2 separate regions of the Homo sapiens genome follow, and region 2 is linked to region 1. Evidence: fine-mapped QTL for protein levels in blood plasma. A gene starts in region 1. The other region holds a variant in brackets. All regions are shown on one strand. Distances are between the middles of the regions. Region 1 holds the start of ADAM9 (ADAM metallopeptidase domain 9). Region 2 overlaps ADAM32 (ADAM metallopeptidase domain 32).

What was found. A credible set is the group of variants that fine-mapping cannot tell apart. PIP is the chance, under the fine-mapping model, that this variant and not a neighbour inherited with it causes the effect. Protein levels are from antibody-based Olink assays in UK Biobank. Linkage for the fine-mapping came from a reference panel and not from the study's own genotypes, which makes the PIPs less certain.
Region 2: its variant is the best candidate, but not a certain one, in a credible set for the plasma level of the ADAM9 protein (UK Biobank, PIP 0.51).

The regions. Positions count from the first base shown.
Region 1 is chr8:38,994,824-39,000,205 of GRCh38, forward strand. ADAM9 (ADAM metallopeptidase domain 9) reads left to right here and starts at 2,150. Exons shown (of 22, transcript NM_003816.3): 1 at 2,150-2,337. The coding sequence starts at 2,241. It overlaps TM2D2 (TM2 domain containing 2), which reads right to left and starts at 1,686. Exons shown (of 4, transcript NM_078473.3): 1 at 1,390-1,686; 2 at 495-582. The coding sequence starts at 1,616. RefSeq lists enhancers at 814-1,336, 1,337-1,858, 1,467-1,656, 1,817-1,916, 1,977-2,026 and 1 more and a silencer at 2,357-2,786.
Region 2 is chr8:39,208,372-39,213,753 of GRCh38, forward strand. ADAM32 (ADAM metallopeptidase domain 32) reads left to right here. Exons shown (of 25, transcript NM_145004.7): 12 at 2,773-2,953. Among named protein-coding and RNA genes, the nearest start is that of ADAM32, 100 kb to the left of the region's middle. The variant T/A (reference allele first, on the strand shown) is at 2,794.

The sequences.
Region 1 (5,382 bases):
ATGTCCTACAAAGACATATACCGGTAGACTCTATCTGTCTCCTACGGACATGGTGGAACCTGTTTGCCTGGAGAAAAGAAATGTCATTGGCAAGAAAAGCTCTGCCCCAAATGCATGTGTAACAAAGATACTGCCCAATCCATCACCAGTGTTGCAAAGTGCACAGACTTCCTTTTGCTCTTTCAGGAAAGGTTCATGCCTTGAAGGAGAGTCAGGGGTGACATTTTAGTTTCAAAATCTGTCAGTGGCCAAAGGAACCAAAGACAGGTTGGTCTTTGCACCTGGGTGGTTTTAGCACAGAGATTGCTCCTTCATAAGGAAACCAAATATCTTGTTCAGTCACTGACCCTGGCCATACTGGAAATTTCCAGTAACGGTCTTTCTGAGGAAATTCTTCAAAAAACTTTGTACCTCTTATACTTTTATGTAATAGCATTCAGACATTCCTATTTCGTTATCGAAGGGTTTGCTCTTACGACAAAACAAAAACTCACCTTGAGACAACCATAACCAAGTTCCTGGGATGCAGTTGCATTTCCAACATGATCCACTGGGTCTTCACATTCTATAAATTCATCAGGTCTGTAATTCACCAGTAAGATCATGATCATCATCATACGGTCTTTGCAAATCGCTGTTTGCATGCACGTAATCAAAACGGGCAAAAGACATTTCTTCATCAAGTTTTCTGGGGTTCGGTTTCACCCTGCTGACCCCTTTCCAAGCCAATTAAACTGAAGCACAGCAGGTCAAACGGACAGCCACCAAAATGAACCTTTTGTTGGAGAAGGGAGGTGTTTCTGGTCCTGTTTCTATAAGGATTCTACTTCTGCCATGGTTTCATCTCTTCAGTAGGCAAACAACAAGATTCTGGGGGCAAAATTTAAGCCAAAGTATTCTCAGTCCTCTTTGCATTTCCCAAATGCCTTTTCTTGTTTGATCAAAAAGAGATGTTAAAAAATGGCGTGATTCTGCAACGGTAAGAATATTGATTGCTTTTTTAAAAGATGCCTTGTAGGCAGAGACAAGTCATTTACTCCATTTATGCCTTACTCAGTACTGGCACCGAATCGACCGACTAATACTCTCCTTGGGCTAAAGGGCGCAGGGCAAAGAAAGCACAACCTTACGCCCTTCTTCCAGAGGCTATATGATGTTACTCCTACCCAGTTTTCCTCTTTGGGGATCTCAAAGCCTCTGTCACTGACACACAAGAGTTTTCTCTGCACGGGCTGTGAGAAACCTGGTTCATGATATTTGCCTCCGGAACGACCTCAGAGAGGCAGGGTCTGAAAAAATGCAGCGTCCCCCCAACCCTGCCTTCCCTTAACACCCATATATTCCTGGCACACCCTCCACGTCCACCCGCCTCGACCACTGGTAGCTTACAGGTAAGAGCAGAGGATGACCGGAGAGTGGGGGTCGCCATATTCCCAGCTCGCAGCACCCCCGGGGCCCTCCGGCTGGGCGGCGCCAGCGGATGTGAGCTCAGGCTCAGCGGTCGCATTTTGCGAGTGGCTCCGAGACACACAATGCAGCAGAAGTAAATTCCCCAGCAGCAAAGCCGCCTGGCCGCACAGAAGTAAGTAACTAACCGGGCAACCACCTAGCACCATCTTCCCGGGCACAGGAGCGGAGACCCGGCCTCAACCACAACCCCAGGCCAGCAGCACAGACCCAAGAACTGCGTGGTCAGGCCTTTCCGCGTAGCCCCGCCCGCGTAGCCCCGCCAAACAGCCAATGGACGCGCAGCTCGACGCTCCGCGCACCTCCGCCAACCAACTAGAAAAGGTCGAGCAGACGGGCGGGGCTACTCCGCCCTCTGCTTCTGCTTCTCGATTCCTCTTCTGGGTCTCATGCTCCTCCTTCTTTTGCGCCGAATGCGTTCTCCAATCGGATCCGTCGACCCCCCTAGGTGGGCGTGCCCGGCAGCCGACGGGGCGGGGCGGATATGACTGGCGGGCCGACTAGTGCTGGTTGCCACCGCCGGTTTAGAAATCCTATTCTCGCGCCGGGGACTGGATTTTTCCCTACGTCAGCGCAGCTAGGCGATGTCGGGAGCGAGCTCGGACCGAGGGCTCAGTTGCGTCAGTGCCGCGCGCGTGCTCGTCGGGCGCGCGTGCTCGTCGGGCGCGCGCGCTTCCCGGCCAGACTTGGGGCCCCGGCAGGGTTGGAAAATGATGGAAGAGGCGGAGGTGGAGGCGACCGAGTGCTGAGAGGAACCTGCGGAATCGGCCGAGATGGGGTCTGGCGCGCGCTTTCCCTCGGGGACCCTTCGTGTCCGGTGGTTGCTGTTGCTTGGCCTGGTGGGCCCAGTCCTCGGTGCGGCGCGGCCAGGTGGGTGTCCGCGCCCCGGGTCGGTTGGGACGGCTGCTTCCTAGGGACGGGGCGCTCGGAGTGAACCTGTGGTGCCTGGGAGTGGAGGGGCCCGGCCTGGGGATCGGACCCGGGGTCGGGGGGCGCGGCCGCTCCAGGTGTGTGCGGACCGGGGTCGCACCCGAGGCGCGGGGTTTGGCGCCCCAAGCCCTTCTTGGCCCGGGTCCTCTGCCCGGCACCGCTTCCTCCGTGTCCTGTTCGATGGAGCCGTTCCCAGCGTCCCCCCATCCCTCGCCGCCTCGCGCGACCCCGGGTCCCCCAGACGCCCCGAAACCCGCTCTGGGGCGGGCGCTGACCTCGGCGGGCCGGAGCCCTGCAGGCTGGGCGCGCCCGCGGGCGTTCAGTCCTCCAAACGCCTGCAGGGAGGGAGCTGGCTCTCGCTCGTGGAGTTAATGTCGCTTGGAAAGAGACTGAGAGATGAAACTTTTGCTGCAGGTTATAATTTGAAATTTTGACGTTCATGGTATCCTTGGGTCAACACAGCTAAATTTAATGGTGGAATAAAGGTGGGTGGGAGGACGCTCATTTCTCTTGGGTCATTTTTGTAGTAAGAATATTTTGTAAACGATGTGCTACCTTTCTATAGCCAAACCATTCTTAAAAAATCTGTGTTTTTATTGGGTTCGTACTGTGTTAAATCCGGACAGATAATCCCTGCTCTTTTGAACTCACAGGATTATTGTAGGAATTAAATCATTTGTGTGAAATCGTTTTTGAATTGTGAAACTGCCCTTGACTATGTAAGATACTTGTATTGGAGATGCCCAAACATAGTGGAAGCAGATTGTCAGCACGCTGGCGTCTTTCTGGAAACAAGTTGTTTATTTTGGATTTTGTATGATATAATTGTTTGCATGGCTGTATTTTCTCTATCAGCGACAGAGGATGATGGAGAATGGGAGTTTTTACTAAATCATTGATTGAAAGTTATTCAAAGGTGATGATAGAAGATTTCAACGCAGGACTGTTGACCTTCAGGAAACTAATTACTTGTTTTTCTTATCTTTGGCTGCTTTATTTGAAATTAAGTAAATTTGCCCCAGTGTGGAAATGTTGAAACTCTGACAATGTTTTGAATGGGAAGTTGCCAAATTTCTTCTGGTTAAAACTACTTTTCCGGTGGTATTCTAGATGGTTAACACTCACCGATGTTTAAGGTGAAGACGATTATACATCCGGAGTTTTATTAATCTGTGATTTTTTTTTGTGTTTGTAAATGTAAATAAGACTGTATTTTTAAATGTTAATATAAATTGTCAGTCATTACCGACCTGCATTAGGTGAGTGGAATATCCTGATGGTCTTTAACTGTGGTTTTGGCCAGCTCCTCACTTCGGCATGTGTATGCCCCTTCAAAGTTTAGCCACCGTTTATGGAACTCCTATAAACACCACACAGTTGATTGTAGAGGGGCAGAAGGTGACCAAATATGCTAAGCGCATCTGAGAGATGTTGGGGAAGATTTTTAGAGAAAATAATATTTGAACTGGGCTACATCGGTGATTTTTCAAGTAGAATAGTAGATACATTCTAAGCAGAGGAAAGTTTTTGCAAGAGTATGGTGGGGCGGGGGGCGTATGAAAGAACATGACTTTTTAGGAAATGATAAAAATGTCAATATGTCTTCATGCAGACTATAAAAGGGAGGGATGGAAGATCAAACTAAGGTAGGTTGTTACCAGTTGGGAAGAGTCTTCTATGCTGAACTAAGGGGTTTGGACTTCACCCCGTAGGAAGTTCTTTGGGCAGTGGAGGTTTTAAGTAGGGGTGCGACCTAATCTCATTTTCTGTTAAGAAAACGGGCAACACGGTGGAGGATAGAATCTAGGAGGGAGAGACTAGAGGCTGGGACACCGGTTAAGAGGCTTTTGTAATAGTGTGCAGTGAGTCAACTCTTGTTTCTCTCGGGGAACGTTCATACAAAATCAGCTGACCACATTTTTGCAGTATAAGGTGTTTAAAACGTGCACTGAAACATTTTCCAGGATCGAAAGAGGAATTTGAGGTACCAGGCACACGTCAGTTACATTAGGAGTTAATTAGGTTTTATAGGATTTTTACTACCTTTTATAACATTGTCTCAATGAGGAAATGCAGTATAATTTCCAAACAGCTAACTTTCAGTAAACTTTTTTTTTTTTTTTAAACTGACAAAGGTAACTGTGTCATTGTAAAAAATAAGCGGAATCAGGTATGAAACCTCTTCTGATTTTCTAAGGTAGTAATTATGAGGAACAGATTTAGAATTTTTTTTTAAACAAAGACTGGCATTCTAAAGAAAATGACTTTGAAAGCTTACTCATGGTGAGTCACTGTAAAATCATTTGTGTAGTAAGAACTTAGGTCCATACTAATCTCGTTTTCAGATGCCAGCAAAATATTTGAATTTGATATGTTTGTGTTTGTGCCGATAGGAGAATGTAGCCTTTTACATTTAAGAATGATTTGGTTTTCAACCTTTTAAGTAAAAAAGAAAGCATATATAATTAAAATATGTACAAACCTAGTTCCTGGTTTCCAAGACAGTTTTCAAAAAGCACTTGAAGCTTTAACTTACCAAATTTATATTTGCTCTTTGTAAAAAATCTGGGTTTATAATAGAATTTATTATGGAATCCCCCAAAAGATGCAAGCTCTAAGTAACTGGAAGCTTTTTCTTGGGAATATCCGCAAGCTCAAACATATGACATAGCCTCATATTTCTTTTTCCTTTTTGGTATGTAACATATACTGGAGGCTTGGAGTCATGCCATCCTTTTGAGTCAGCGCTATGGAACTGCCTCATAAATGAATGCAGTCCTTTTGTATCTCAGTAGCTAATCCCTCACAGTCTTTTTTTTTTTGAGATGGAGTCTTGCTGTGTCGCCCAGGCTGGAGTGCAGTGGCACGATCTCGGCCCACTGCAACCTTCACCTCCCGAGTTCAAGCAATTCTCCTGCCTCAGCCTTATGCCTGGCTAGTTTTTTGTATTTTTAGTAGAGATGGAGTTTCACGGTATTAGCCAGG
Region 2 (5,382 bases), 210 kb after region 1:
TCTCTTAAAAATTGTTGTAGTTATTGTTTTCAATATCTTTGGCTTTTAATCTTTATACCAAAGATATGAATGGTTTACACACCATAGTTACAGTGTTAGAGTGTTCTAAATTTGTTTGTTTACTTTTATACCTTCACATGTGTTCTTGTTGCACATTAGCATTCTTTTCTGTCAGACTGAAAAACTTCTTTTAGCATTTCTTATGGTTTGGTGGTGATGAATTCCCTCCACTTTCATTGGTCTAAGAGTTTTGAATCACTTCTTCATTTTTAAGGATAGTTTTCCTGGGTACAATATTCTTGGTTGAAAGTTTTTTCCTTCAGGACTTGGAATATGTCATTCCAGTCCTTCCTGGTCTTTAAGGTTTCCATAGAGAATTCTGCTGCCAGATGTACTGGCACTCCTTCATATGTTATTTGCTTCTTTTCTCTTACTGCTTTTAGGAGTCTCTATTGTCTTTGACCTATGAGAGTTTGATTATTATATGCGTTGAGGTAGTTTTATTTCGGTTGACTCTTCTTGGTGATCTTTGACCTTCTTGTAACTGGATATTTATATTGAGGTTTGGACAATTTTCCATTATTATTTATTTGAATAACCTTTCTACCCCCTTTCTCTTCCTCTACTCCCTTTGAAGGTCAATGACTCTTACATTTGCTATCTCACTGATCCAATAACTGTTCTTTGTTCTTTTAAATAACTTTTCTACCCCCTTTCTCTTCCTCTACTCCCTTTGAAGGTCAATGACTTGTACATTTGGTATCTCACTGATCCAATAAGTGTTATTTGTTCTTTTAAATTCACTTTTTCTTTTTTCTTCTTGACATATTTTCAAATAGCCTGTGTTTGTGCTCGTGAATTCTTCCTTTTGTTTGATCACTTCTGCTTTCGAGACCCTCTAATACATTTTTCAGTTTATCTATTATTGCTCCAGGAATTCTGCTTGATTTTTAAACTTATTTCAATCTCTTTGTTAAGTATCTCTGATAATTAATTTTCTGAATTGTTTCTCTGTGTTTTCTTGATGTTATTTGAGCTTCCTCAAAACATCTATTTTGCATTCTCTGTGTAAGAGTTTACACATATTTCTCCAGGTTTGGTTACTGGTGCCTTATTTATTATACTTGATGGGATCATATTTTCCTGAATGTTATTAATGCTTGTGGATGTATCTGGGCATTAAATAATTAAGTATTTCTTCTCATCTTTACAGTCTGGCCTTGTTTGTATTGGTCCTTCTTCAGAGGACCTTACAGAAATTCCAAGAGTACTGACTGATGAGTTAAGACCATGGTCACTGCTGCCATTTCAGCACTAGATAGCACCTTAAGCTCAATTACGCTGTGGCTCTCTTGAAGATTCCTATGCATCCAACCCTGATGGACTTGGGGAATATCAGAGACAGTTCTGTGGGTTTCCAAGCCCAAAGTCTCTTGCTCACTTCCTTTTTCTTCCCCTAGCAGAAGGAGTTGCTCTCTATACTGCACTGTCTGGAGTTGCTGGAGAGGTGATACATGCACTTTCATGGCCACTGCAACTGGCAGCATACTGGCTTACACCTGAAGCCCATGGCCTCATAGACCAGCACAGTAATGGTTAGGGTTTGCTCACCTAACACCCACAGTCACTATTACCTGACTGCTGCTGATATTTATTCATGGCCTAAAGCTTCTTTCATCAGCCAGTGGTGAAGCTGGCCAAGGCTTGGCTCTATCCTGCTGGGGTGATGAATTTTCTTCTTAGCTGGGGCAGGTCTAGAAATCTGTGGGCACCAGCCTGGAATCAGGGACCATGGGGTTCAGCCTGGTGCTGTGTTTTACGGTAGTGGGGCTGGTACAGGCTTTTCAGGCAAAGTCCCATGCACACTTCCTTCTCCCTCTCCTAAAAAGACAAATTCACTCTCTATGTGCATTGCTTCAGATTGGGGACGGGATGGTGTAGGCAACGCAAAACTGTCATTCCTATGCTCTTCAATGTGTCTTTTCTTGTTGTTATGCCAAAACCAGTTACTGTGATCTTTTACCTCATTCTTTTAGCTCTTGTGAAGGTGTTTTCTTGCATGGATAATTGTTCACTTCAGTGTCCCTACAGAGGGATGATCACTGGAGGGTTCTATCCCGTGCTCTTACTCTGCCTCCTCTTCCACATCTGATATCTTAAATCGTCACTTTCAAGACAATGTGCACAGCCAAATCAGTAATGAAATCTGGCACATAATAGGTACTCAATAAATCTCAGTTTCTTCCTTGCCTTACAGATGTTTACTACATACAAATATAGTAAAAATGGACTTCCTATGGAACTAGTCAATGAATTCTCTTTATTATTGGTATATGGACATAATAATATATAATTTTGATAAATATACACTTTTTTTCTGAGATCTTCAGGACTAAGCACATTATCATTTGTTTAATAAAATTTTGTGGTTAATTGGGTGCTAATTTTTATTTGAAGTGATGTCTGTCCAAATCTGGGTGCTGATTTTTATTTGGAATAATATCTGCTCAAATCCTTTGCCTATTTTAAAATTGGATTACTGTGTGTGTGTGTGTGTTGCTATTGAATTGTACTTAATTTTGTTTTATTAAGAACATGTATTCCAGTGAATAAAATCACATGACATCCTCAAGTATGATTTTGGCCTCTAAGCACTTATTATAAACATTTGTAACAGCCAATTGAATTTAACATTTTGAAATTAATTTATATCATATAGAAATGTGTTTCCAGAAGTATACTGCCAATGACATTATATGGATTCATCTTTAGGCAATCCAATGGTGTGAAGAC[T/A]TTTAGCAGTTGCAGTTTGAGGAGCTTTCAAAATTTCATTTCAAATGTGGGTGTCAAATGTCTTCAGAATAAGCCACAAATGCAAAAAAAATCTCCGAAACCAGTCTGTGGCAATGGCAGATTGGAGGGAAATGAAATCTGTGATTGTGGTACTGAGGCTGTAAGTATGATAACTAGGAAAATTGATTAATAAATTTATTGTTTTAATTTATCTTTTTCATAAATGTCATATATCTCAAATGTGAATGAGTACCATGCAGAATGTTGACAGTAAGTGAAGTTGGGTCGAAATACATACAAGAAAATACTGTTTAGATTTTGTAGGTTGAAGAATTTTGAACAAGTTTATAATGTACTGCAAAAAATTATTGGTAATGGGAAACAGGAGAGTCTAGAATAAGCTTTTGAGTTTCAGACTAAATATATAGGGTTCTTTACAAATCTCTGCTTAATCTTTGGACATTTTACAGATGTCTTAATGAAGATTGATTAAGCAGCCCAATGTGTCCTTTAGGTTATTACTTCACAATGGAATCAGTAGTACAGGAATCTGTATCAATATCAATATGAACACTAGATATTTTGATTATTCACTTGATAGGGAAACCCTGAAAATATAATGAATTCAAAAGGCCTAGGGTTTAATGCTTTTATATAATTCAGTATTTGTAGCAGTACTGCAAATGTTATAAATTTCCTTGGTTACAAGGTAGACAGAAATTTATTAGGGTCTGTTACATCCATAGGTCTGAATTACTTGAACCATATCACATTATTTTAATTACTGTGTTTTTGTATTATGTTTAACTATTTGGTAGAACAAGTCATCTTTCTTTATTTTTTATTTTATTTTAATTAATTTATTTTTTGAGATGGAGTTTTGCTCTTGTTGCCCAGGCTGGAGTGCAATGGAGCAATCTCGGCTCACTTCAACCTCCGCCTCCTGGGTTCAAGCGGTTCTCCTGCCTCAGCCTCCCAAGTAGCTGGGATTACAGGTGCCTGCCATCATGCCTGGCTAAGTTTGTATTTTTAGTAGAGACGGTTTCATCACGTTGGTCAGGCTGGTCTCAAACTCCTGACCTCAAGTAATCCACCTGCCTCGGCCTCCCAAAGTGCTGGGATTGCAGGCATGAGCTACCACACCTGGTTCTTGATTTTTTTTAAAAAAATCAATCTTATTGGGGTATAATCCACATACAATAAAATGCACCCATTTTAAGTGTACGGGTTGATGAGTTTCAACAAATGTATATAACTATTGGTAAAATTAAGATGTATATTTTCATCATCCCCAAAAGCTTATTCATATTTGCAGTCATTTCTACCTCCACCTGTCTCCAGATAATTTCTGATTCTGTTACCTTTGCCTGGTCTAGAAAGTCATATAAATGAAATGAGACAGCACATATTTTTTTATGTCTGGCTTTTTCCTTTCAATATAGTGTTTTTGAGATTCATCCATTTATTTCATATCACAATAGTTTCTCCCTTTTAATTTTGAGTAATATTTAATTGTGTGGATATATCACAATCTGTTTTAACCATTCACCTGCTAATGGACATTTAAGTTGTTAAACTATTGGTCCATTATTCTTAATTTGTAGAAGTACAACTTCTAGGTCATATGATATGTGTATGTTTATAAGAAATTGCCAAAATATTTTCCAAAATGGTTGTATCTTTTTACACTCCTGTCAGCAGCATATGAAACTTTGAGTTCCTTCATATCTGCACTAGAATTTGTTATTATCCACTTCTTAAATTTTAGCTATTCCAGTGGTTTTGTAGTGGTTTAAATTTGCATTTTCTTGATTACTTTAATGATGTTGAGCATGCTCTTACTGGCGATTTTTTAAAAACAATTATTTTCAATGGACAAATAATAATTGTGTATATTTCTGGGATACAGTGCAGTTTGGATATACATTTACTTTCTGTAATGATTAAGTCAAGGTTATTAACAAATCCATCACCTCACATACTTATTATTTTTTTTGTGGAGAAAACATTTAAAATTTACTTTTTAAGCAATTTTTTGATATATAATAGTTGTATACATTTTGGGGGTACATGTTATATTTTGATACCTGTATAGAATGCGTAATGATCAAATCAGGGTAATTTGAGTATGTACCACCTCATATATTTATATTTTATTTGTGCTGGGAATATTATAATTCTTCCCTTCTAGCTATTTTGAAGTATACAATAAATTATTAACTATAATTTCCCTACTGTACTATTGAGTGCTAGCACTAATCCCTTCCATTTACCTGTATTTTAGATCCCTTAACCAACTTTTCTTTTCTTTTGTCTATATCTTTTTAAAAAATTTCTAATTTTTGTGGGTAGTAGATGTGTATATTTATACATACATCTATTGCACATACATCTACCATATATTTATGGGTTACATGAGATATTTTGATACAGGCATGCTATGCATAATAATCACATGAAGGTAAATGAGGTATTCATTCCCTCAAACTTTATTTTTTTGTGTTACAAACAATCCAATTATACTCTTTTACTCATTTAAAAATGTACAACTAGATTATTTTTGACTGCAGACACTTTGTTGTGCTATGA